Homo sapiens: one gene and its partners. The protein of the gene in region 4 purifies or fractionates together with the protein of the main gene of each other region. This does not show direct contact. Each region holds a gene or a part of one and is shown on either strand. Other genes may lie near its edges.

Region 1 (3,500 bases), on a different chromosome or scaffold from region 4:
CCCCAAAAGCCTGACACCCTTGAAAACCCACTCCCCCATGTCTCAGATGGCTTTCATGGGGGCAGGAGAAAGGATAGTGACCTTAAGTCTTCTCCCGTGACGGTGACAGCTCGTTTGCCAGCTGTTGCTGGAACCGGCCCTGGATTTAGAGGAAGGCGTGGAAGTTCAAGACTCAAGATACTTCCTGGATAGAGAATAACTGGAAAGGCTCAAGTAAGTTTTTCCGAAGCTCTCGCCTTAGGAGGAGTTCAGCCTGGAATAAGAGCGTGTGTTAGTTTTGTCATCCCACCTAACTACAGATTGAATTACCCTGATAGGTTTTTAAGCCATTCCAGTGTGCATTATCTCAATAAAGCTGTTATTTAAAAAAAATACTAGATTGCAGTTTTAAAATACTTAAATTTTACAGCTTCTAAAAAAGGAAAGTTATTTCCAACCAGAAAAGTAAAGTAGAAAATGGATTCTTTGCGCAGAGCATGGTGGCTTACGCCTGTAATCCCAGCACTTTGGAAGGCAGGGGCAGCAGGATTGCTTGAGGCCAAGAGTTCGAGACCAGCCTGGGCAACATAGAGAGACCCTGTCTCTACAAAAGATTTAAAATTACCTGGGCATGGTCGGGCACCGTGGCTCACGCCTGTAATCCTAGCACTTTAGGAGGCCAAGGTGAACGGATCACAAGGTCAGGAGATCGAGACCATCCTGGCTAACATGGTGAAACTTCATCTCTACTAAAAATACAAAAAATTAGCCTGGCGTTGTGGCGGGCACCTGTAGTCCCAGCTACTCGGGAGGCTGAGGCAGGAGAATGGCGTGAACCCGGGTGGGGCGGAGCTTGCACTGAGCTGAGATCTCGCCACTGCACTCCAGCCTGGGCAACAGAGCGAAACTCCATCTCAAAAAAAAAAAAAAATTATCTGGGCACGCTGGCACACACTGTAGTCCTAGCTACTTGGGAGGCTGAAGTGAGAGGAACACTTGAGCCAGGGAGATGGAGGCTGCAGTGTGCCCTCATTGCACCACTGCACTCCAGCCTGGGTCCCAGAGCGAGGCCCTGTCTCTGAAAAAAAAAAAAAAAATTATATCTGCAAAGACCCTATGTCCAAATAAGGTTCCATTCACAGGTACTTGGAGTTAGGACATCAGCATCTCTCTGGGGAGCACATTTGACCCGCGACGCTGGCGTTCATCTCTGTCTTAGTTGTCATATTAACCATTTCGTTTCTTAGCTTTCCATTTGTATTTCTATAAGATAAAGGTGTAGTATAGTATTTGAATGGTTGTGAAAAAATAAACATGCCGAAGCAATGGATTTGGTTTTGGGATTCCAAAGTTACCGTGTCGTGAGTGGGCCACAGAATGAGCCCCCTTAGCCCAGGTGGGGAAAGTCATTTCTGTGTCTCCTCCTCCCTCCAGGAAACTCCCAGTACAGCCAGCAGCAGGCCGGGTACCAGCAGGGTGCCGCGCAGCAGCAGACGTACTCCCAGCAGCAGTACCCCAGCCAGCAGAGCTACCCCGGGCAGCAGCAGGGCTACGGTAAGAGGCGAGCACGGTCCTCGGGGCCCCCCAGCGCCCACCCCTGCCCCTGCCACACATGGGTACGTGCTCAGTACCCCAGCCAGCAGAGCTACCCTGGGCAGCAGCAGGGCTACGGTAAGAGGCGAGCACGCTCCTCGGGGCCCCCCAGCGCCCACCCCTGCCCCTGCCACATGTGGGTACGTGCCCGGTGACCCTGGTGCTCAGGCAGATGTGTAATAAACTTATTTTGAATACCTTTAGGTTTCCAGAAAAGTTGGAAACATCCATGCACGTAGACCTGAAACATCTTATTTTAACTTAAACATAAATTCATTGCCCACGTGGCCTGTGACGGGAGCCAGTGTCCCGTGTATCCATCACCTGCACGCCTCAGGCCCAGCTTCAACCTCTTTGACAGAGCAGGTCAAAGCCTGTGGGTCTCAGCCTTCACTGCAGCTTACAATCACCCAGGAAACTTCTGAAAAATAAGGTGTGGGCTGCCCCAGGTCTTTTGTTGGAGCAAGATCTCAGTTCTCAGGATGAGCTCCACACACGTGGTTTCTTATGAGGCACGTGCCTGATTCTGCTGTGCTTATTCAGCCCTTTACAGCCATTACTAATTAAATAGTATAAAAATTACTTGAGGCCAGGCGTGGTGGCTCACGCCTATAATCCCAGCACTTTGGGAGGCTGAGGTGGGCGGATGACCTGAGGTCAGGGGTTCAAGACCAGCCTGACCAATATGGTGAAACCTCGTCTCTACTAAAAATACAAAAATTAGCTGGGCATGGTGGTGGGGGCCTATAGTCCCAGCTACTCAGGAGATGAGACAGGAGAATTGCTTGAACCAGGAGGTAGAGGTCGCAGTGAGCCGAGATCACACCACTACACTTCAGCCTAGGCGATAGAGTGAGACGACTCCTCAAAAAATAAAAAAATAAATTACTTGAGGCTCAGTGTGGTGGCTCATGTCTATAATCCCAGCACTTTGGGAGGCTGAGGCAGGAGGATTGCTTGAGCCCAGGAGTTCGAGACCAGCCTGGATGACATAGTGAGACCATCTCTACAAAAAATACAAAAATTAGCCAGGCATGGTGGCACACTCCTGTGGTCCCAGCTACTTGGGAGGCTGAGGCAGGAGAATCACTTGAGCCTGGGAGGTGGAGGTTGCGGTGAGCCAAGATCACGCCACTGCACTCCAGCCTGGCTTGGGTGACAGAGTGACACCCTGCCTAAAAAAAAAAAAAAAAATTGGCCTCTATCAGTTCTTGCCGGAGCCTTTGACTTAGCCTTCCTAGAGACGATGTCTCTGTCTCACCTGCCTGCAGGTTTTCAGCAGCTCCCGTGGTAGTTCAGTGACAAGTTACAGCAGCCAGTGTGACTGGGGCCAGCGGGTTCTGGAGGGCTGTCCTGCCTTCAGGTAGCAGCAGTTCTGGGGTGATGGAGAGAGCCCATCAGCCCTCGCCATGCTGGTGGGGGGCCTGGGGCACAGTCCTGGGACCTCACAGGACTGGAGGGGCTGGTGAGTCGGTTACGTGGTGCTCTCGCTGTACAGAGTTAACGTGGAGCCACGTGCAGGTGCCAGGTGTTCTGGAGATTGACAAAAGGCTGATGCATTGAGACGGGAATTTTTCAAGGAGAAGAGGAAGTTTTAAAAAAAATTTTTAAGTTAAGAAAAAAAAAGAAAGAGGTGTCCGTTTTGGCCGGCCTCACGGTTCCTGGTGTCTTCTCAGGGTCTGCCCAGGGAGCCCCGTCACAGTACCCCGGCTACCAGCAAGGCCAAGGCCAGCAGTACGGAAGCTACCGAGCACCGCAGACAGCGCCGTCTGCCCAGCAGCAGCGGCCCTACGGCTATGAACAGGCAAGCTTTCTGGATGTTTCCAGATGTGCCCATCCGCCGCGCCTGTCGAGACATAATGAAGATTTCTCTTATGGCCATGAGGAATAATGAGCTGGAACTAACTGGCTTCCAGGGTTCCTTCCAG
Region 2 (3,500 bases), on a different chromosome or scaffold from region 4:
AGACTGATGAGAACATTTCTCTGGGAAGGTGAGGGTCAGGCCTGGATTTCAGTGGAGGAAAGGCAAGGGAATGAGAATAAATACAGGCTCCTCTGGAACAAAGTTTGGCTATGAGGGGAAAAGGAGAGGAACCGCGTCAGTCAAAAGACACACACGTAGGCAAGGGTATAAAGGGGCAGGTCAGAGAGGGAACTCCAACGACTATGCTCATGTGAACAGAGACACCCACATGTAGTCAGGGAAATGCAAATTTAAATAACAGTGAGGTATCACCTGGTACCCATTCAGATAAGCAGAAATTTTAAGGGCTGGTAGTGAGATATTCCATGCAATGCCATTTCTGTATGTTTTTTTTTAAACAAAAGCTGCTTTGTGTTATTTATTGACAAATATATGTAGTGGAAATACAGCATGGCTTAGAAGAACTTACACCAATTTGAGAAGAGCAGTTCTCTCTGAGTAGAGGAGAAGGGAGAATTGGACTAGGGAGGGATCAGAGAGGGCTTTTTGGGCTTTTTAATAGTATTTTATTTTTGAGACATGGTCTTACTCTGTCACCCAGGCTGGAGTGCGGTCACATGATCACAGCTCACCGCAGCCTTGACTTCCAAGGCTCAAGCAATCCTCCCACCTCAGCCTCCCAAGGAGCTGGTACTACAGGCACACACCACCACGCCCAGCTAGTTTTTGTATTTTTTGTAGAGACAAGGTTTTGCTGTGTTTCCCAGGCTGGTCTCGAACTCCTGGACTCGAGTGATCCTCCTGCCTCAGCTTCCCAAAGTGCTGGGATTACATAGGCAGGAGCCACCACACCCAGCTTTTAACTATATCTGATTTGTTTTTCCCTTTAAAAAACATCTGAAGCTGGCCAGTCACGATGGCTCACCCCTATAATCCCAGCACTTTGGGAGGCCGAGGCGGGCGGATCACGTGAGGTCGGGTGTTCGAGACGAGTCTGACCAACTTGGAGAAACCCCGTCTCTACTAAAAATACAAAATTACCCGGGCGTGGTGGCACATGCCTGTAATCCCAGCTACTCAGGAAGCCGAGGCAGGAGAATCGCTTGAACCTGGGAGGCAGAGGTTGCGGTAAGCCGAGATCGCGCCATTGCACCCCAGCCTGGGCAACAAGAGCGAAACTCCGTCTCAAAAACAAACAAACAAAAAAAAAACATCTGAAGGTAAATGTGGGCAGTGTAAACGCATGTTGAATCTGGACGGTGGGGGTTACTCTGGCCTAGGTTGTGTGCCGTATGACTTTCTGAAGGGTAAATGTCCATGCCTCCTCCCAGAGGGGAGCCTTGTGCCTAACTGTCCTTAACAGCTTTTTCCAGGCTATGCCTCATGGGACTCGCAGAGACTCCAGGCTGTGCCACCCTGCTCCCAGCATCACTGTTCGTCAATAGTCACCCAGGTACAGGGTTCTCCTCCTTTAAAGAAATCTGTCCTCTGTCTCCCGAGAGCTGTGTGGGGGTGGCTTAGAGAGAAGTATGGGGCCGCTGCAGAGGCACTGTGGGAGGATTCCCTAAGCCTGTCCCAGGGTTAGTACCAGAAGCATGTGTTTTTTTTACAGCATCTGCCCCTTTTTACCCATCTTGGGCCATTTCAGTCATTTCAGCAGCCAGAGCAGACTTAACACGCATGTAAACCAGCGTGAGCTCAGAACAGATTCGGACGCCCGTGCACATCATTCAGAAAACACCTCTGAAGGTCCAAAGCACCTCAGGTGCTATCAGGGATACTTAACAGTCTGCCTACGTTAAGGCAATTTGACTCCTCCTTCCTGACAGCATTCTGGATATTACATTTCAGTCTATCAGAAAATTAGGATCAATAAGACCAGGGTGAGAGGCCTCTTAAGAGTGTGGGCTTCAGGCAGACCTGGCACGAATCCCAGCTCTGCCCCTTGCCAACTTGAATGGAATGTTGAACCTCTCTAAAGTGGACAGGGCCTTCTCAGTCCACATCCGTGGAGAATTAGGTGAGATCATGCACATTTAGCCCAGTGCCTGGTATTTCATTGCACAGCAAGCTTATGAGGCAGGAGTGTGTCTTACCACCATTTTACAGATAAGGAAACTGAGGCAGACAGTTTCAGAATTTGTCTTACAAAAGTAATTTTTAGTGTTGGAGGTCAGGCTCACAGTACCCTTTGGGGAGGTAGTAATTGGGAAAGGGATGTGAGGGAGGCCTCTGGGGTACTGGATTGTTTTATGTCTTGTCTTGTCTTTTTTTTTTTTTTTTTTTTGAGACGGAGTTTTGCTCTTATTGCCCAGGCTGGAGTGCAATGGCACGATCTCAGCTCACCACAACCTCCGCCTCCCAGGTTCAAGCAATGCTCCTGCCTCAGCCTCCCAAGTAGCTGAGATCACAGGCGCACACCACCACGCCCGGCTAATTTTTGTATTTTTAGTAGAGACGGGATTTCACCATGTTGGTTAGGCTGGTCTCGAACTCCTGACCTCGTGATCCACCTGCCTCGGCCTCCCAAAGTGCTGGGATTACAGGTGTGAGCCACAATGCCCGGCCTTTTTTTTTTTTTTTTTTTTTTTTTGAGATGGAGTTTCACTCTTGTTGCCCAGGCTGGAGTGCAATGACACGATCTCAGTTCACCGCAACCTCCGCCTCTGGGGCTCAAGCGATTCTCCTGCCTCAGCCTCCCAAGTAGCCAGGATTACAGGCATGTACCACCACACCCGGCTGATTTTTGTATTTTTAGTAGAGATGGGATTCTCCATGTTGGTCAGGCTGGTCTCGAACTCCCGACCTCAGGTGATCCACCCGCTTCGGCCTCCTAAAGTGCTGGGATTACAGGCGTGAGCCACCACGCCTGGCATGGATTGTTTTATTTCTTAACCTGGGTGGTGGGTACATGGCTATATTTAGTTTGTGATAACTCACTGAACTGTATCCTTACAATCTGTACGTTCTATCAATGCAAAAGTTTATTTTAAAAAATATTTTTTCGAAGCACAGTGGCTCATGCCTGTAATCTCAACACTTTGGGAGGCCAAGGCAGGATAATCGTTTGAGCCCAGGAGTTCAAGACCAGCCTGAGCAACATAGCAAGACTCCAATCTCTACAAAAAATAAATAATTAGCCATGTGTGGTGGCTCACACCTGTGATCCCAGCTACTTGGGAGGCTGAGATGGGAGGATTCCTTGAGCCTGGGAGGTTGAGGATGCATTGAGCCATGATCACGCCACTGCACTCCAGACTGGGCAAAAGAACAAGACCCTGTCTTAAAAAAAAAAAAAAAAAAAAAAAATATATATATATATATATATATATATATATAGTTTATTTATTTATTTATTTGTGTGTGTGTGTGTGTGTGTGTGTGTGTGTGTGTGTGTGTGTGTGTATATACACACACACTTGCCTGAGATCACATAGCTGGTAGGTGATCGAGGATCGGAGCCACCTTACCTCCAACAGTATACTACCTCCCTGATATCAGTACTATTCGTACTGTAAACACGACTACTGGGAACGTTA
Region 3 (3,500 bases), on a different chromosome or scaffold from region 4:
AAATGTGTTAAATCACATAAGTATTTCTGTTCAAATGAGGCCAGTGTTAGGTCAATATAAGGTAATGGTAGGACTACTTAGTGGTGCTGTTTTGTTGAGGAATATTCTGTTAACTTTGGAGAGTTTTACTAAGACTTTGAAAGAATTTAATACTGTAGTACTCTTATTCCATAGAAATTACTCTTTTCAATTTAAAGATTGAGAACCTAGATCCCCGAGGAATTCAGCTATCAGCTCTCTTCATGAGTGGAGTAGACATGGCCTTGTTTGCAAATGATGCATGCGGACAGCCAATCCCCTGGGAACACTGTTGTCCTTGGATGTATTTTGATGGGAAGCTCTTCCAATCCAAACTCCTCAAAGCCAGCCGGGAAAAGACCCCACTCATTGACCTCTGTGATGGTCAGGTATGCTGCGGGGCCGGGTGGCTGCCTTTAACTGCAATGAAATAAAGCTCACTGGTTAAATCTGTCATCTTTTATACCATATTTATCATCCTGTGTTTCAAGATTCTGTTTTAGGTTGGGCCTGGTACTGAGTGTCACTAAATATCACTTCAGTACCCAGGATGAGCCAAGCTCCTGATATAACATTGTTTCTCATTATTTGTGGTAGTAATGTTCTAAAATTCACCTTGAACGCCAAATTAGTGAATACTGACCATTGCTCCTAGGGGCAATACAAGGTGCTGGGTTCCTTCAAGGCTCTGGTCACATATTTTTGTTAACCAATCAGTATATAATCTTATTTCATGTGCATTTTCGTTAAAGACACCTTATATAATATGGATTGTTGATTCATTATTATTGAACTCACAGCCAGTAGCTTCTGTAACACGTATATTCTCTGTAAGGCACATCACAGCCTCCTTATGCATTTAGGAACACCAGACAGCACTTCAGCACTACACTTGGAGACCATTTTATTTGTTTGTTTGTTTTGGTTTTTTTTTTTTTTTTTTTGAGATGGAGTTTCGCTCTTGTCGCCCAGGCTGGAGTGCAGTGGTGCGGTCTCAGCTCACTGTAACCTCCACCTCCCAGGTTCAAGTGATTCTCCTGCTTTAGCCTCCCTAGTAGCTGGAATTACAGGTGCCTGCCACCATGCCCAGCTAATTTTTGTATTTTTAGTAGAGACGGTGTTTTGCTATGTTGGTCAGGCTGGTCTTGAACTCCTGACCTCAAGCAATCCACCCACCTTGGCCTCCCAAAGTGCTGGGATTACAGGCGTGAGCTGTTGCACCCAGCCAGGGACCATTTTAAACAGTGAAATTACCAACAAAAAAGGACAAAAATGTGAAACACGTGGCACTTAATAAACTGTGAAAAGGATTCTTGTTTTCAGTATGAGCTGAAACAAGAAGGCAAGCGTTGTCTTGTTTGACCTCAGCTGGGGTCAGTGCATCAGGCAACAAAAATCTTTGCCGTGTTCTGCACAAGTCTGCAGACGACCAGAAAACTGCCATAAGTATTGATTTTTGTGGTTACAAATAAACGTTAGCAAGTAGGAGAATTTGCAGACATAGAATTCATGAATAAAGGGAACCAACTGTATAGTTGATAGATCTTATTTCTTTAGTGCTCATTTAAATTCAATTAAAACCCCCTGTGGATGGCATTTTCACATGCTGGTCCTTGTCTTCCAGGCTGATCAGGCTGCCAAGGTAGAGAAGATGCGCCAGAGCGTCCTCGAGGGGCTCAGCTTCTCCAGGCAGAGCCACACGCTCCCTTTCCCGCCGCCACCTGCCCTGCCCTTCTACCCTGCCTCTGCGTACCCCCGGCACTTTGGGCCTGTCCCACCCTCTCAGGGCAGGGGCAGAGGCTTTGCAGGTGAGTTGATTGGGACGTATTCCTGTGGGTAACAGATGCCAGATTCCTGTAAAGAAAGTGCAGCCCTTATAGGCAAGCCCATCTGCTGTGTTGACCTTGTCACTGTTGGTCTTGGAGATCCTGCAGCAGCAGTTCTTCAAGTCCGTGAGGAGCAAGTTTAATCCTGGAGATAGGGGAGAGGGACCTGCTGATGCAGATGCAAAAGCTGCACCGTAAAATCTGTCAATCAAGCTGAAAACTCTGCTCACATTTTAAGATATATTTGTTTCTCATGTGTAAGGGAAAATAAACCCACCCAGGTCAGAGAGAGCCATCTTCCAGGACTCATCTCCCAGGGCCCTTCCTGAGCCCCATGCTAGTGCCCTGTTGAATGACCCACTGCAGGGAGGGTGGCCTTACAATACTGGTCCCCAGGGACCATGGGCACAGGACAGTGAGGTGACAAGAGGGGCCAGGAGACCCCTCCATGGCAGCTGGAGGAGGCAGGGGCCACTCTGCCTGAATACCCAGCAGGGCCCTGAGTCCTGTCCCTTACACTTCTCCCCTCTCTCTCTACCCCGGGTCCCACAGGCGTCTGTGGCTTTGGAGGCCCCTATGGGGAAACGGTAGCAACAGGCCCTTACCGTGCCTTCCGTGTGGCGGCAGCATCGGGACACTGCGGAGCCTTCTCAGGCAGTGACAGCAGCAGGACTAGCAAGTCCCAGGGCGGTAATTATACCCACCCCTTCCCAGAGCTTCTGCCTGCCAGCACTTCCTTCGCTCCATCGTCTGGCGCCTTCCTTCCTCTACTGTCCTCATGAGCCCCTCCTCCAGCAGAACGGCCTTTCTTCTGGGTCCCCGCTCTGACCCTCATTGACCACTCCTCCTGAGACTCTCTGCTCTCAGGTCTCAGCAGCGGCTCTGCTGTGGCCAGTCTCTCCTTTCAGGGTAGACCACTGAGTGTCCACCTAGAACAGAACCTTTCTGTGCACCTGGGTAACCTGACCATCGCCTCGTGTTCATAGGATGAGCTGCTAATAGTGGCGTTTCTTTCCCAAGCAGCCATCTTTTGGTAAAGATTATCATGCTTGTATAGAAAATGCTAATGGTCACAGAATTCCTGACATAAAAAGTCTGTCACAGTTTGTTTCGCAGAAACATTTTTAAACAAAGATCTAATGTTGGGCATATAAACAAGGCAGTTTACTGTAGATTCCCAGTGCTTCTCTTTGCATTTGTATTAGGCTTGCAAAAGAGAAAAGGGTCTTAACATTTAGCATAGGAAGCAATGTCTTGTGATGGTGCTGTAATTGGAAGTCAGTGACCTGTATCTTTGTCCTAATCCCACATTTTGGGACTGCAGATCTAAATCTGCCCATCAAGTCACATAACAGGATTAACTGTTCAGATGTGATTTTGGAGTTGCATTGAGGATGGGCAAGCCTTTCTCTCTTGATCAACAATGTTTTTCCAACTCAGTTACATGGGATAGTTAGGGAGGCCAGCAAGGGAACTGTGCGGAAAGGTGACTTGCAGATTTGGCGACGGGTCAGCCCCTCTGTCTGCAGGTCACCTCTCCTTTCCCTGGTGCAGCTGCATGCCTCTCTGCCTCCTCTGTCTGCCCACCAGCCTCCTGCAGTGTGCTACTCTGCTCTGTGACTGCTCCTCATGCAGCTCGCAGCCATGTTTCCTCTC
Region 4 (3,500 bases):
CATTTGAATTTTGGACTGTTTGAAATACATATTTTTGAAGTTTTGCTTCATATTTGTTAGATTGATTGACTTAAGTTTTATAACCAGAAAGTACTATAGAATATACATGATTCATGAGATGTATATTTTTCTGAAGAGTTTACATTCATACTAATAGTTTTAGCATAATCAAATTAATATCTAGGCTTCCAATTTTTTTTAACAAAAGTTAATTATAAATATTGTTTTTCCAGTTGTCATTTTTATCTTGGGAGGATATCATTAATTATAGGTACTGTTTTTAACTATATAGTTTCAACATTGTAAGTATTTACATGGTCTTCAGATCAAATTGGGCTTTTTGCTCTTATTAGAAGCTGCTTTTTGAACTATGTCCTTAGTTAAACTTGTTTTTCCTCCATATGTCACTCTCTAGGTTTGTTTTTGCAGGGTTGTAGCTAGGCTACTAGGAAAAAAGTTGAAGCATTTGTTTTGGAAAATAAAACCATGTGAAGATTTGCATGGCTTGTAAAGAAATACAAAAGAAATATGCTGGTCAAAACTTAGGTACTACCAACCTTGAAAGAATTTTTTCCTGGTGGTCTAATATTGCACAGTAAGAGGATATATATGATGCTAGCTTTTACACCTTCCTCTGAAAAATCTTAATTGGCAGACAAGATGCCAAGTAACAGCAATTCTATTACCTACCCATAAGATTGGCTCTTCATAGTAAGAAATAGTAATCGAGTGACTTGATAAGTTACCTCTTTGCTACGTCAGATTGAATATCATCATTACTGATGAGCAGATAATGCAGTGTGTTTTTTAAATTACAAGTGGAATAATTTTTTAATATGAACTGCTTTTTCATTTGACCTATTGTAAGACTGTCATTATATGTGTTATTCCTCCTTTACAAGTTTAATATTTGCTCACATTCCCCTGTAAGTTTGCTATTAATTGGATGGATGGCTGTTAGCCTAGTGTTTTATGATATATCTTCATAATATTACAGATAATTTAAATTAGGAAGAGCAAGCTAGTATGCTGGCCATGTATATTTTAATAGTGTTTTGTTATTTTTGATACAAATATTGACAGTCATTAAATATAGACTTGAGTATTAATGGTCTGCCAGACATTAACTTAATTTTCTCAAATATACATTTATTCAGTTATAGCTTGTCTACAAAAATTTCTTAGAGTCTAAAATTGAAAATGCAATTGATTATTTTAACATTGGCATTTAATTTTTACAAATATAAGTGCCTGCCTGTATCAAAGTTTCTCACCTACTCCAGAAATATATACACGTACTGTGTACCCACAAAAATTAAAAATTAAAAAAAAGTAAAGTGCTTACAGATAATGTGTAAAAGCAGTCTATTTAAAAATTGGAGGCCAGGTGCGGTGGCTCACGCCTGTAATCTCAGCACTTTGGGAGGCCGAGGCAGACGGATTACCTGAGGTCAGGAGTTTGAGACCAGCCTGGCCAACATGGTGAAACCCCGTGTCTACCAAAAATAGAAAAATTAGCCTGGCATGGTGGCTCATGCCTGTAATCCCAGCTACTTGGGAGGCTGATGCAGGAGAACTGCTTGAGCCCGGGAGTCGGAGGTTGCAGTGAGCGGAGATCGTGCTACTGCACTCTAGTCTGGCCGACAGAGTGAGACTCTTTCTCAAAAAAATAAAATAAAATAAAATAAATAAATTAAAAATTGGATACTAATCATCTGTGATGTTTATGCACTTTATTTTCATGTAGTTCCTTTTCTTGGCATGTACATCTCAATGTGTTCCACCAATGTTTATTATTAGGATATTCCTATAGTATGAAAGGATAAGGTATAGTTTCCCACATTTTGTAGATGGAGATATTAAAGTGCAAAAAAAAAAAAAATTAAATGGCTTAGGGAACATTTCATTAATTGGACCAAAATGTTGTGTTCATGACGTGTTCAATAATATTTGGAAATTACTTATGGTTAAATTTATGCCCAAGTATCTCTTTGCCTAATGTGTTCCATATTTACTTGGTGGATTTTAATTTTTTGTTCTGTTTTGTTGTTGAAATTGGGGGACAGTTTGCTGGTCTTATCTGGGTTAAGAATTTGAAGTTTTGGTATGAAGATTTAGGTAAATATTTCAAATATTTTAAAATTTTGTTTTTGCTTACTGATGCCAATATTACAGCTATAGTCAAGGTTAACTTGATGTTTCCTTTATAAAACTTGATTTTTTTGGAAAGGGGGTGAAATATCTTGGACATTAAAAATTTATTGTACAAAACTATATGTTACTAGTTTTCTGGCACTGAAATATTCATTTCTATTTATATGTACCTACCTTTAGAATAGTCAGAAACTTAATTGTAGAGTTATGTTTACCATAGTACATTTTCAATCGCATTGTGAATTTATTCTATTTTTTTTTTCTTGGTGGGTAAAGCTCTTTCTTAAATTACACCATTTGAGGGAGTTTACATTTGTTAGTTAAATTGAATGAATACACTCATGTGTTCTCTAGTTAGTGTCCACCATATAGATCAATTCTTTTAAGAGAAAGCCTTAGGTATATAAGCACTGAGTTTGTAAATTGCTAAACGGAACTGAATAAACTGATTGCCCTTCTTATTCAAGGAAGGAAAATAAAAGTATATGGAGATTGGAAGACAAATATATCAATAAGTTATTCATGCATGTATTTCAAATTTAACTTTATAAACTGTATCGTGTGTGTGTGTGTGTGTGTGTGTGTGTGTGTGTGTGTGTGTAGACAGGGGTCTTGCTTTGTTGCCCATGCTTGTCTTGAATGCCTGGCTTCAAGGTATCCTCCCGCCTCAGCCTTCCAAAGTGCTGGGATACAAAAGTGAGCCACTGTGCCTCAGCCTTCCAAAGTGCTCGGATACAAAAGTGAGCCACTGAGCCTGGCAGTGTATCCATTTTAAAAAACAAAAAACCTGATTTTGATATTTTCTGATATTCTGTTACGTTTTTAAAGGACATGCAGACTTGTTGAAAGGAAGAGCAGAAAGTGGAGAAAGTTGAAAGACTTATCAAAGCTCAGCTAGGTTAGTGTTATGTCTTAGAATCCATGTTTTTAGAGCTTAAATTGCCCAAAGTAGAAATAAATTGAGTTCTTTCTAAGACAGATAGTTTTCACTGAGGTTACAAATTTTCCTGAGGATACAAAATGAGAACATTATAATTCCCAAAAATGTTTATATGCTTTTTTTTTGCAGTTAAATTTTCTACCTTAGCTGTTAACTAAAAATGTCCCTGAATAGAAGCACTCTTTCATAATCCTATCTCTGCTTTGTTGTGGATTCAGTATTTTCATAGTTGATCGTGTGAAATCTATAACGTCTTTGATAGACAAGTATATTGTGGCCGGGCGTGGTGGCTCACGCCCTGTAATCCCAACACTTTGGGAGGCCAAGGCAGGCGAATCACAAGGTCAGGAGACCAAGACCAGTCTGGCTAACACAGTGAAACCCTGTCTCTACTAAAAATACAAAA
Region 5 (3,500 bases), on a different chromosome or scaffold from region 4:
AAACACCCATAAAGTGCCAAGGTAGCCTTGTCAGTCAGTGTCGGTGTCACCTGTCATTCTTAGGCAGTTTATTTCTCCTGGGGACTGTGACCCCCTTAATTGGCAGGTGTTGGATGGAATGCTGGCTTCTCTGCTTAATTGCAGTGTGACCCTGGGCAAGCAATTCCTTTGCATGGCCTCAGTTTCCTTGTCTATAAAATGGGCCCATGATGCCTCCCTCGTAGGGTCTGCTGTGAGGCTGAACGAAGCAATGTTCTGCCAAGCTGGGCAGGCAGTCGCTTTCAGGAACTAGCAAATGATGCTGCTGTTGTTTTCACTATGATTACTGTTCTCCTGCGGGACTCATGCTGACTCCTCCGCTCTGAAAGGTCCCCATTGTCTTCCTGAAAGGCACACAAGGAACAATGTTGGCATTCTAAACTGCATGGCAGCAGAGGGCACGCAGCAGGCTGCTCCGGCATGAGGCACACAGGGCTTCCCTGTACCGTGCCTCAGTTTCCCCAACTGGAAGAGTGGGCATGAGAGGAAACCCACCTCAGGCATGCTTAGTGTTCAGCACAGTGCCTGGGGTATAGCAAGCGCCCAAAAAATGTGAGTGGCTGTGATTGGAATAATTATTATTAAGTAGCAGAGTCTCCCATAGGATTAGATACCCAAGTTGCTATGGCCTTTCCCCCAAACCCTAGGCAATCAGTGTTGGCATTTTAAATGGAAGGCACAGGGCTGGCATTGGTGGCTCATGCCTGTAATCCCAGCACTTTGGGAGGCCAAGGCAGGCGGATCACTTGAGGTCAGGAGTTCGAGACCAGCCTGGCCAACATGGTGAAGCCCTGTCTCTACTAAAAATACAAAAAAATTAGCCAGGCGTGGTGGCGCATGCTTGTAATCCCAGCTACTCAGGAGGCTGAGGCATGAGAATCGCTTGAAACTGGGAGGCGGAGGTTGCAGTGAGCTGAGATCGCACGATTGCACTCCAGCCAGGGCGACAGAGCAAGACTCTGTCTCAAAAAAAAAAAAAGGAAGACAATGCCCAAATACCCACTGGGCCACAATTTCCTCTTCTGTAACAGAGCTTCCCCGCTTTGGGTGTTGTGACGCTTCAATGAGTGAAGACTTGGGAAGCTTTTTAGGATAGGACCTGGCTCTCAGGAATGCTCAGTGAAGCTTCACTTTGATTCTTATTATCTTTTATTTTTATTAATTTTTTTTTTTTGAGACAAGAATCTCTCTCTGCGCCCAGGCTGGAGTACAGTGGTGTGATCTTGGCTCACTGCAACCTCCGCCTCCCAGGTTCAAGTGATTCTTATGTCTCAGCCTCCCGAGTAGCTATGGCTACAGATGTGGGCCACGACACCCAGCTAATTTTGTATATTTTGTAGAGCTGGTGTTTGGCCATGTTGGCCAGGCTAGTCTCGAACTCCTGGACTCAAGCAATCCACCCGCCTCAGCTTCCCAAAGTGCTGGGATTACAAACATGAGCCACCATACCAGGCCTATTATTTTTAAATATTTTATTTTATTTTATAGAGACAAGGTCTTGCTATATTGCTCAGGCTGGTCTCCAACTTCTGGGCTCAACAGTCCTCCGACTTTGGCCTCCCAAAGTCCTGGGATTATAGGCATGAGCAACTGCACCTGGCCGTCTTTGTTTATTATTATTTTGTTTTCTTTTTTCTTTTTTTTTGCCATCTAGACTCGGCTTGGCAGATTTATTTATTGTTATTTTAACTTATATTTTTTATTTTTTTGAGACAGGCTCTCACTGTGTCACCCAGACTGGAGTGTAGTGGCGCCATATCGGCTCACTGCAACCTCCGCCTCCCAGGCTCCAGCAGTTCTCGTGCCTCAGTCTCCCGAGTAGCTGGAATTACAGGTGCCTGCCACCACACACGGCTAATTGTTGTATTTTTAGTAGAGAAGGGGTTTCACCATGTTGGCCAGGCTGGTCTCGAACTCCTGAACTCAGGTGATCTGCTCACCTAGGCCCCCCAAAGTGCTGGGATTACAAGCATGAGCTATGCACCTGGCCTTTTTAACTTTTTGTTAAGGAAATTTTAAAGCACTCACCGAGAGTTGAGAAAATAGCACAACCACCCCTGTGTAACCATCACCAGCTTCTGCAAAAATTTTCTGCTGATCTGATCTTTTTTTTTTGGCCATTACCTACTGTGCACATATATTTTTTCTTTTTTGCCAAGGTATTTTAAAGCAAATTCCAGATATCATATCATTTCCATTGTATTATTATTGTTATTAATGGTGGTGTTATTTCTGGGATCCAGAATTTGTTTCAGCACCTCCAGAGTCTGTCCTGTTCTATGAAGAAAGTGGCATTAGGCCCATTTCATAGGTTGGGAAACTGAGGCAGCAGGGAGTGGGCTTTGATCAGGTGGTCCTTTTTCTGTGATCCCCTTTTTGGGACTGTGGTGAATTCCCTGTCTTGGCCACACCAAGCCTCAAACCCTGTGGGTTGTTTCTGATTACACAGGTTTGGGGGTCACACCTGGGTGCATGCAGTGTGGGGTACAGGTTCTGTTACTCTGTGCAGAAATCGTCCTCATAAAGGAAGAGTTGAAGTGGGGCTGGCAGCAGGGGATGGACCCCTAGGATGACCCTGGAGGTGATGGGCAACTGGGTCAGCTGTGTGGGTTAAAGTCCTGTTTCTGCTCCTTCTAACCCTGTGACTTGGTGGCAAGCTATTTCCCTCCTTTAGTCCAGGTTAGAGAACTGGAAGTACAGGAGAGATAATAAATACTTATTTGGATGACCTTATTGTTAAATAAGGTCTAGCGTGGAAAAGATGTTTTGCAAGTGCCTGGCTCAGAGTAAACGGTCACTATTGTTAGTGTTGTTATTGCTTCTGTGTATACTCTTGAGGTTGGGGACAAAAATGCTGTTTCTAGGATTGCAGAGGAAGGGTTGATGCCCCTTGACCCCCCAGCCCGGCCCCGCTACCTTCATTCCCTTGCCATGCCCACCCTGTCCCTCTGCACTCTCCCTTTGAAGTGCTTGCCTGTTTAGGGGGCTGCCAACTTCAGCGTGGCCCCTCTCAGCCTCTTATGTCCTCTGTGTCCCAGCCTGGTAACCTTGGGAACGGAGTGAGCGGGAATATCTGTCTGAGGCTGTGAGACCCTTGCTAAAGACCCTTGGGGTCCTTGAGGGAGCGCCTGGTGGCCTCTGCTGCCTGGAGGCAGAGGATGGCCCAGTGTCCAGGGACACCTGCAGGTGAAGCTCCCCGGAGCCACCTTTCCAGAGGCTGGATGCCAACTCTCGTCCACCGTGTGAGGCTGGGCGGGCAGATGTCCACAGCGCCTGCCTCACAGGGTGGCTGTGACAGTTAGCTGGACTATAACCTCCATCACCTGGCACGCATAGTGTCTCATTGACCTCAGACACTTGGCGCCCGGCCTGGGTGCGGGAGTTCTCCCTGGGAGAAGTCTGAGCTCACAGCTTAGCAAGCTCTTGCTGTACTGCGGAATTTCTCTCCCTAGAACGTGCGC
Region 6 (2,661 bases), on a different chromosome or scaffold from region 4:
TTTCCTGTAACTATAGAAAGAATTATGTATATATACATGCAGAAATATATATGTGTGTGTGTATCTGTGGATGGATATATGTATATCTCTTCCTATATATATCCATAGTGGACTTATTCAGAACATAGATATGTATTCAGCTTGTCTTCAAATACGGCCAAGCAGAAAATGTTTTATATTTTATAAATCATCTTTTGACTCTGTATTTAAATTCTATGATACTGAAAATAAAGGCATTCTGGAAAAATACTGACTGATTTTGGTGCAGAAGTTTTGAGTATCAAGTAAAAGAAGTATAGTTTTGAAAGGGAATGGCGGAGGCCTGTTTCCCTTAAGAGGTGAAGGGTCATTTCATTCTTCCCATTAGTGAACATCAGCCTTTTCAGAATAGCTAGTTTTTGGGGTTGGATCAGAAAGAATATAATCACCAAATTTGTTACTCAAGAAAGGAAGAAATCTCTTAATAGTTAGTTATACTTATGAATGTTTAGGAAACAACATGAAAGCTGAAAATTTATTTCACTAATATACATAAGAAGTTCACAACAATGAACAGACAGAAAATAGCAGTATATACAGAATTTCACTACTTACAGTACATTACAATAGAGAAAGCATTTTATAAACAGTTCAGTATTGGATTAAAATCTTTTAAGGATGGCTAATTCTATTCAGCAGGAATCTAACTTCTAGACACCCAGCAAACCCATTCCTATCAGGGTGAGAGAGGGCTTTTGCTGTTGCTATAGTGTACTGTAAAAATATTTGTTCCTTATAAATGAAGTGGACCACAGCAACTTCTAAATGAACATTATATTCAGTGTAAGTCTCATATTATTAAATTTCAGATTTTTGACTTTTTAGATCGCAATTGTTTTTAAAAAGCAATTTAAATGTAACAGTGTTTACTTTGACCATAGATGAAGTTTTATAATAAAAGTAAAACTTTTTTTTTCTGTTTGCAAAAGTATGAAGCATTAAGAAGCATGGTGCTATATATCTCTTTATCTACATTTACCCTGGCCCCTCTAGTTCTGCATCTAAACAGAACCTGTAATGTAGAAGTTATGATTATTTGAACACTTTTTGTTTTCCTTCAGCATTATACAATATAATTTAATAAGATACAAATGCATATTTAATGTTTGTTAATGAAGAAAGTTGTGTGAGGGTGGGCATATATCTAGGAAAACACTACTGGTTACTGGCTTCTCATCAATAACTACAAAGTACCACATACCTTTGTTTCAGAAACCACCCATTCTACATTAAAATCTAATTCCTTTATCATCTATGGCTCTTTGTTATTATAGAATGTCTACATAGGTATTTATTTGCCTTTCTTCCTATCAATCAGATTTATTTATTTTAAAAGCCCTTGATAAGTAGTAAAATATTTAACTGCTTTTCTTAACCATACAAGTCAGAATTAGATTTTAAAATTCTATGAAAAATTTTAGGATAACAAATCTAACTAGAGACTTAATGATTTGTGTTAGGATTCTGTGAGCCATACTTCAGCTTATTATTGTTCTCAGCAATCCCCAGATTTGATTGTCTGTTCTACCAGAGTAAGCTTAACCAGTTTTATTATCTAAAATGCTTAATAAGTGCCCCCTCCCCGCCAAGTGATGATGGAATTGAGGATTTATTCTTTAAAAATACCTATAACTCCAAGTTTCTTTGACTAGCCTCCTTAAGTTCATACTACTACTTTCAGCGTACTTGGAAAAATCACAGGAAGAACTAATCTCTTAGAAAACATATAACAAGTGACTGTTAACACAGAGCCAGATATGTTTACAAGAATTCTAGGATGTGTGTGGCTGGGGCAGCGGAGACCCAAGCAGAGGCTGGGAGGTTGGACTAGCCCTTTCCAGTGCTGCTACTCTGTAAAATGTATGTCTCAATCAGACTCACAGGCCCCCATCCCAAATACTCAAGACATCTTAACCATTTATCTTGTAAGATTTCAAGTTTGATAGTTACTTAACAGTAATTACTAAATTTTAGCCAGTTAAATTCTTGTTTGGATGTGCTCTTTTAGCTCAAAAAACAGATTTGTTTTTCTTTTTATATCCCTGAAGGACATACTCCTCAACTTTGCATGATTACTATAGTTGGCTTCTTAAGGGGAAGTGAAGAAACAAACTTCTGTATCACAATGACTTACTATGAATAATAATTGTGATCCATGACAGATACCCATAATTACACTGTATGGCTACATTCTAAAAATATACCACAATAAATACTTGGTATTTGTAGAGCTCAAAGCACTCTTTTACAGAGTTTTGGTTAGTTTGGTTTTTTCTTTTTTTTTTTTTTTTCGAGACAGGGTCTTGCTATATTGCCCAGAATGGCCTCAAACTCCTGGGCTCAAGCGATCCTCCTCCAGCCTCCCGAGTAGCTATAGTTTGGTTTTAATCAGTAAATATTTATTTAGCACTTGGACTGCTCTAGGCACTATAGGGTACAAAATTAGTTGTATTTTATCCTCTCATCCCAGCTGTGAGGTAGGTTTGCTAAAGCTGTAATACCACTAAGCAGTTTTTTCAATACTGTTCCCAAGGACAGATAATATTAGCAAATCCCAGAAGCATTTCTAAACACTTGTAGGAAAAATAAAGTCGGACTTAAAATTTTTAGTATCTTTGCCTT
Region 7 (3,500 bases), on a different chromosome or scaffold from region 4:
TAAATTATAAAATGAAGAATTAAATGATCAGATACTGAGGTCTTAAACCTTGAATATATAAAATATTTCAGATCCTGTTGTAGATAGTTGAGGGATTGGCTCTGCATAGTTTAACATTGTGAAAACACAAATGTGTACTTGAAGGACTTTTTTTTTTTTTTCCTAACTGCAGCGCTTCATTTTTCCTGAAGGACCTTCTTAATGACTTTTAGTACTCAGTGAAAATACCCACACTTATTTGTAACAATATATTTTTGTATGAAACAAATATGTTCCCTTGTGACGGAAAATGATGTTGAAGCTGTGTGCCGTAATAGTAGCTGAAGCGGATAATTGTGTTTTTGTGACTTATGTCAGAAAACAAAGTTGATGAAGGCACTGATATGGAATCAGTTTTATATAATATACTTAGAAGAAGGAGGAATGATTTTTAACATAACTTACTTTAGTCTCCACTGGAAAAAGCTTTCTTACATTTAGAATGATCTTTTTATTTTTAAAATGATAAAGCTTTAAAACTTTCTTTGAATATTTTCCATAGTTTTCAAAATCCAGACTCAAATTTGTCTTAATTCCAAAGAATCTTTGTTTTTGCCTTTTAAACTCCAGGACAGCTCCTCTGGCAATGTATCTGAAGGGGAAAGCCCTCCTGACAGCCAGGAGGACTCTTTCCAGGGAAGACAGAAATCAAAAGACAAAGCTGCCACTCCAAGAAAAGATGGTCCCAAACGTTCTGTACTGTCCAAGTCAGTTCCTGGGTACAAGGTAGAAGAAAAAAGCCCCTGACTCAGCTTCTTTACTGACCAGCCTCTCCCTGAAATATTTTAACTTGACTTTCACGATTGTGGAGCTTCTGCCTGCTGTACCTCACTAGCTGTTCTTCTATGGTGTGCCCTTTGTCCGCTGCTTTCTTTTTTGCTTTATTTCCTTGGTGGCTTTTCTGTCACTTTTGGCTATGGTTTACCTTCTGTTTTCTGTATATGTACAATTTATAAGTCTTTTTTTTTCTTTGAAAGAATAACCAGGCAAGTATGGGTTTTTAAAACATTATTTCATAGGCAGAAGTTTATATTTTCTTTCCTTGGAGTAAAGATCATAATTATTTGGCATTTTAAATGCCCCAGCATTTAGTGTAGCTAAAGCTGCTGAGCTATAAAGTATGAGTGGATATACTGTTAGACTAAGTTGCATTTTTTTTAGTGCCTTTCATTAAGAAAGATCTGGGTTTAATCTAAGGATTATTTGATCCATATGCTAAATTTAGCTAACTCTGGGATAGAAAATAATAAAACCTGTTACTTACATTGTAGTGATTTTTAGCATAACCTTGGTAAAGAGCCTATATGATTCTATGGCAAGAATTAAAACATACTTGTTAACTTGTTGATCTGATTATCCTCAGAGTAAAGGAGTAGGTTGTCAGCAACTATTATTATATTTTGAACTTTTCCTCCCTCTGTCTGCCCCTCCCTTTTCTTCTGAAGAAAAGGTGAGGTGAGAGATGAGTAGCCTTATTTGCATATAGGGATTTAAGAATATCATAAAAGGAAGAATTAGCTGTACAGTTTCATATTTGGGATGGTGGTAGTAAAATAGACTACCTTTTGATTCTTTTGGTCTGAAATGTATTAGAACATGCTTTTATTGCACTTATGAAGGTGTATTGAAGGAAAATTTTAGAGTAAGCTGATGAGAAAGTTTTGCCAAGTGAAATTGTTAAACACCTTGTATGTCAGAACTGTGATTGTGGTAAATAATTCACAAGAACAGGCTGAAGTAAGTCACCTTTCCCTCAAACTAACTAGAACACGTTCTAACATGTTCATTTACCTTTCTTCAAGTAAAAAAAGCGACATTAAGTTAGTGTATTTCATATTTTATTAGGAAATGCTTTTATGTAATTAACTTAAAAATTCTTTTTTTTTTTTGTAGCCTATAGCAAGCAAATTTTAAGCTTAATTCAGCAAGGGTTGGCTTCCAAGGGTGGCTGCAATAGGCTGCAGCTATGTGATTTTTGTACTTGTTTTTACATATATAGCTTATGTAATTTCTTTATATAAATTAATGCTTAATAACTGAAAGCAAGTGAGCTCCAAAGATGAAATTTCAGAAGCAGTATACATGAATGAGTGTGTTCTACTGGTCTGCTAAGAGCTTTAAATGGAAGTGGCCGCTCAAAGCACAGTGTCCTGTTAACTCTTGAGTGCTAAGTAGATCTTTGCAACAGTAAGCTTGATTGATCATGGGTTAAAAAGAGAGAATATTGAAATAGATGTTTTAATACAGGCTGGAAATCAGCTATTCAACACTATCATTGATTTAGTATACAAGAAATCATATGGATTAACTGAACTTAATAGTACTCAAGTAGGATATGCAAAATTTATATTTTACATAATCTGTGAACATTTTTAGTACCTAAAAATGTTTCAGGTATTTCAAAGATGGGAACAACCAGTATCTAGTCATCATACATTAATGTGAACATGCTTATTAAAAGTTAACCTCTTTATAAAAAGTATTAATAAACCAAGATGTGCCTAAATATTAGGGTACTTCAAGCTAAAGGTCATAGTTTATATATAAAAAGTACGAGATTCAAGGAAGTAATGTATCTGATGCTTTGCTTAATAAGATTCACTAGTGCTTGCCCTTAATTCATAGAACAGTATTGTTTAGGTTACATTAACCTGAAATTTAAAGCATAATTATTAGGATTCCGGCCTATAAATACAATAATTAAAATCTATACTATATTATTGCTACCATGAAAGTCTTATCTTTGGCTGTTTTTCAAGTAGAAAAGTAAGTGTACTGTGAGCCTTTTATTTGAGATGCTGAGAGCTATTAGGATGAGTATTTCAGTTTTCTTGTCAATAGTGATACTCTGATGATGTTGCAGTTATTTGAAGTAGAACTGATTGTCTAAACCAGACACACATAGGAGTGTGCTCCATTGGTCTTGTGGAGAGTGCTGCACATTAACCCCTCCCTCAACTGTGCAATCCACTTGAGACTGGCTTCTCTAAGCCACAGTTGTTATCTGCTGTGTAAAGTCCTGGATGCCAGCACTGTGGCTTCTTAGAGAGGGCAGATGCTTTGTATATCGAGCTGCAGCATTCATCGTAGAAAATGCTACAAAGCTGTCTCTCTTCCCCTTCTCTCATGTTTCCCTCTTTTCATCAAGATGAAGGCTGTTGGGTAAGAAAAACTAAGTGATTTAACAAATCATTATGATTTAAACTTAGAAATAAACCTAGAATTTTTTGGTGTCCCTTTTATCATAGGTGTTTAATGTATATTTTAATGATTGTAGAACTTGAATTGCTCTAGAATGTGAATGACTACCCTTGTGTTTTACTCCTTTTGGCTTTTGTTTTGTAAAGAATCTCCTGTGAGGAGTTCTGTTTTTAGAATTTAATATTGTTTGGTTACTTCCCTGACTTTAGTGAAAGATATTAGAGTATTTACTATGCCAGTATCTAACTTAAACTATTAGT

The links.
Region 1: the proteins of ARID2 (region 4) and SS18L1 purify together in Homo sapiens (affinity purification with mass spectrometry, with the first as the bait; one large-scale study listed by BioGRID). This does not show direct contact.
Region 2: the proteins of ARID2 (region 4) and DCAF4 purify together in Homo sapiens (co-immunoprecipitation; one large-scale study listed by IntAct). This does not show direct contact.
Region 3: the proteins of ARID2 (region 4) and FAM120A fractionate together in Homo sapiens (co-fractionation; one large-scale study listed by BioGRID). This does not show direct contact.
Region 5: the proteins of ARID2 (region 4) and BICRA purify together in Homo sapiens (affinity purification with mass spectrometry, with the first as the bait; one large-scale study listed by BioGRID). This does not show direct contact.
Region 6: the proteins of ARID2 (region 4) and RAB3GAP2 fractionate together in Homo sapiens (co-fractionation; one large-scale study listed by BioGRID). This does not show direct contact.
Region 7: the proteins of ARID2 (region 4) and PHF10 purify together in Homo sapiens (affinity purification with mass spectrometry; one large-scale study listed by BioGRID and IntAct). This does not show direct contact.

Annotation. Positions count from the first base shown.
Region 1 is NC_000020.11:62,171,269-62,174,768, forward strand, and holds part of SS18L1 (calcium-responsive transactivator), read left to right. Parts: intron 1-1,413; coding exon 1,414-1,533; intron 1,534-3,248; coding exon 3,249-3,376; coding exon of another isoform or gene 3,377-3,463; exon of another isoform or gene 3,464-3,500. UniProt on the Homo sapiens protein: Transcriptional activator which is required for calcium-dependent dendritic growth and branching in cortical neurons. Recruits CREB-binding protein (CREBBP) to nuclear bodies.
Region 2 is NC_000014.9:72,950,464-72,953,963, forward strand, and holds part of DCAF4 (DDB1- and CUL4-associated factor 4), read left to right. Parts: intron 1-1,334; coding exon 1,335-1,414; intron 1,415-3,500. UniProt on the Homo sapiens protein: May function as a substrate receptor for CUL4-DDB1 E3 ubiquitin-protein ligase complex.
Region 3 is NC_000009.12:93,556,185-93,559,684, forward strand, and holds part of FAM120A (constitutive coactivator of PPAR-gamma-like protein 1), read left to right. Parts: exon of another isoform or gene 1-174; intron 175-197; coding exon 198-407; intron 408-1,642; coding exon 1,643-1,826; intron 1,827-2,396; coding exon 2,397-2,534; intron 2,535-3,500. UniProt on the Homo sapiens protein: Component of the oxidative stress-induced survival signaling. May regulate the activation of SRC family protein kinases. May act as a scaffolding protein enabling SRC family protein kinases to phosphorylate and activate PI3-kinase.
Region 4 is NC_000012.12:45,732,706-45,736,205, forward strand, and holds part of ARID2 (AT-rich interactive domain-containing protein 2), read left to right. Parts: intron 1-3,500. UniProt on the Homo sapiens protein: Involved in transcriptional activation and repression of select genes by chromatin remodeling (alteration of DNA-nucleosome topology). Required for the stability of the SWI/SNF chromatin remodeling complex SWI/SNF-B (PBAF).
Region 5 is NC_000019.10:47,615,634-47,619,133, forward strand, and holds part of BICRA (BRD4-interacting chromatin-remodeling complex-associated protein), read left to right. Parts: intron 1-3,500. UniProt on the Homo sapiens protein: Component of SWI/SNF chromatin remodeling subcomplex GBAF that carries out key enzymatic activities, changing chromatin structure by altering DNA-histone contacts within a nucleosome in an ATP-dependent manner.
Region 6 is NC_000001.11:220,147,793-220,150,453, forward strand, and holds the end of RAB3GAP2 (rab3 GTPase-activating protein non-catalytic subunit), read right to left. Parts: 3' UTR 501-2,661; downstream 1-500. UniProt on the Homo sapiens protein: Regulatory subunit of the Rab3 GTPase-activating (Rab3GAP) complex composed of RAB3GAP1 and RAB3GAP2, which has GTPase-activating protein (GAP) activity towards various Rab3 subfamily members (RAB3A, RAB3B, RAB3C and RAB3D), RAB5A and RAB43, and guanine nucleotide exchange factor (GEF) activity towards RAB18.
Region 7 is NC_000006.12:169,707,501-169,711,000, reverse strand, and holds part of PHF10 (PHD finger protein 10), read left to right. Parts: intron 1-609; coding exon 610-765; intron 766-3,500. UniProt on the Homo sapiens protein: Involved in transcription activity regulation by chromatin remodeling. Belongs to the neural progenitors-specific chromatin remodeling complex (npBAF complex) and is required for the proliferation of neural progenitors.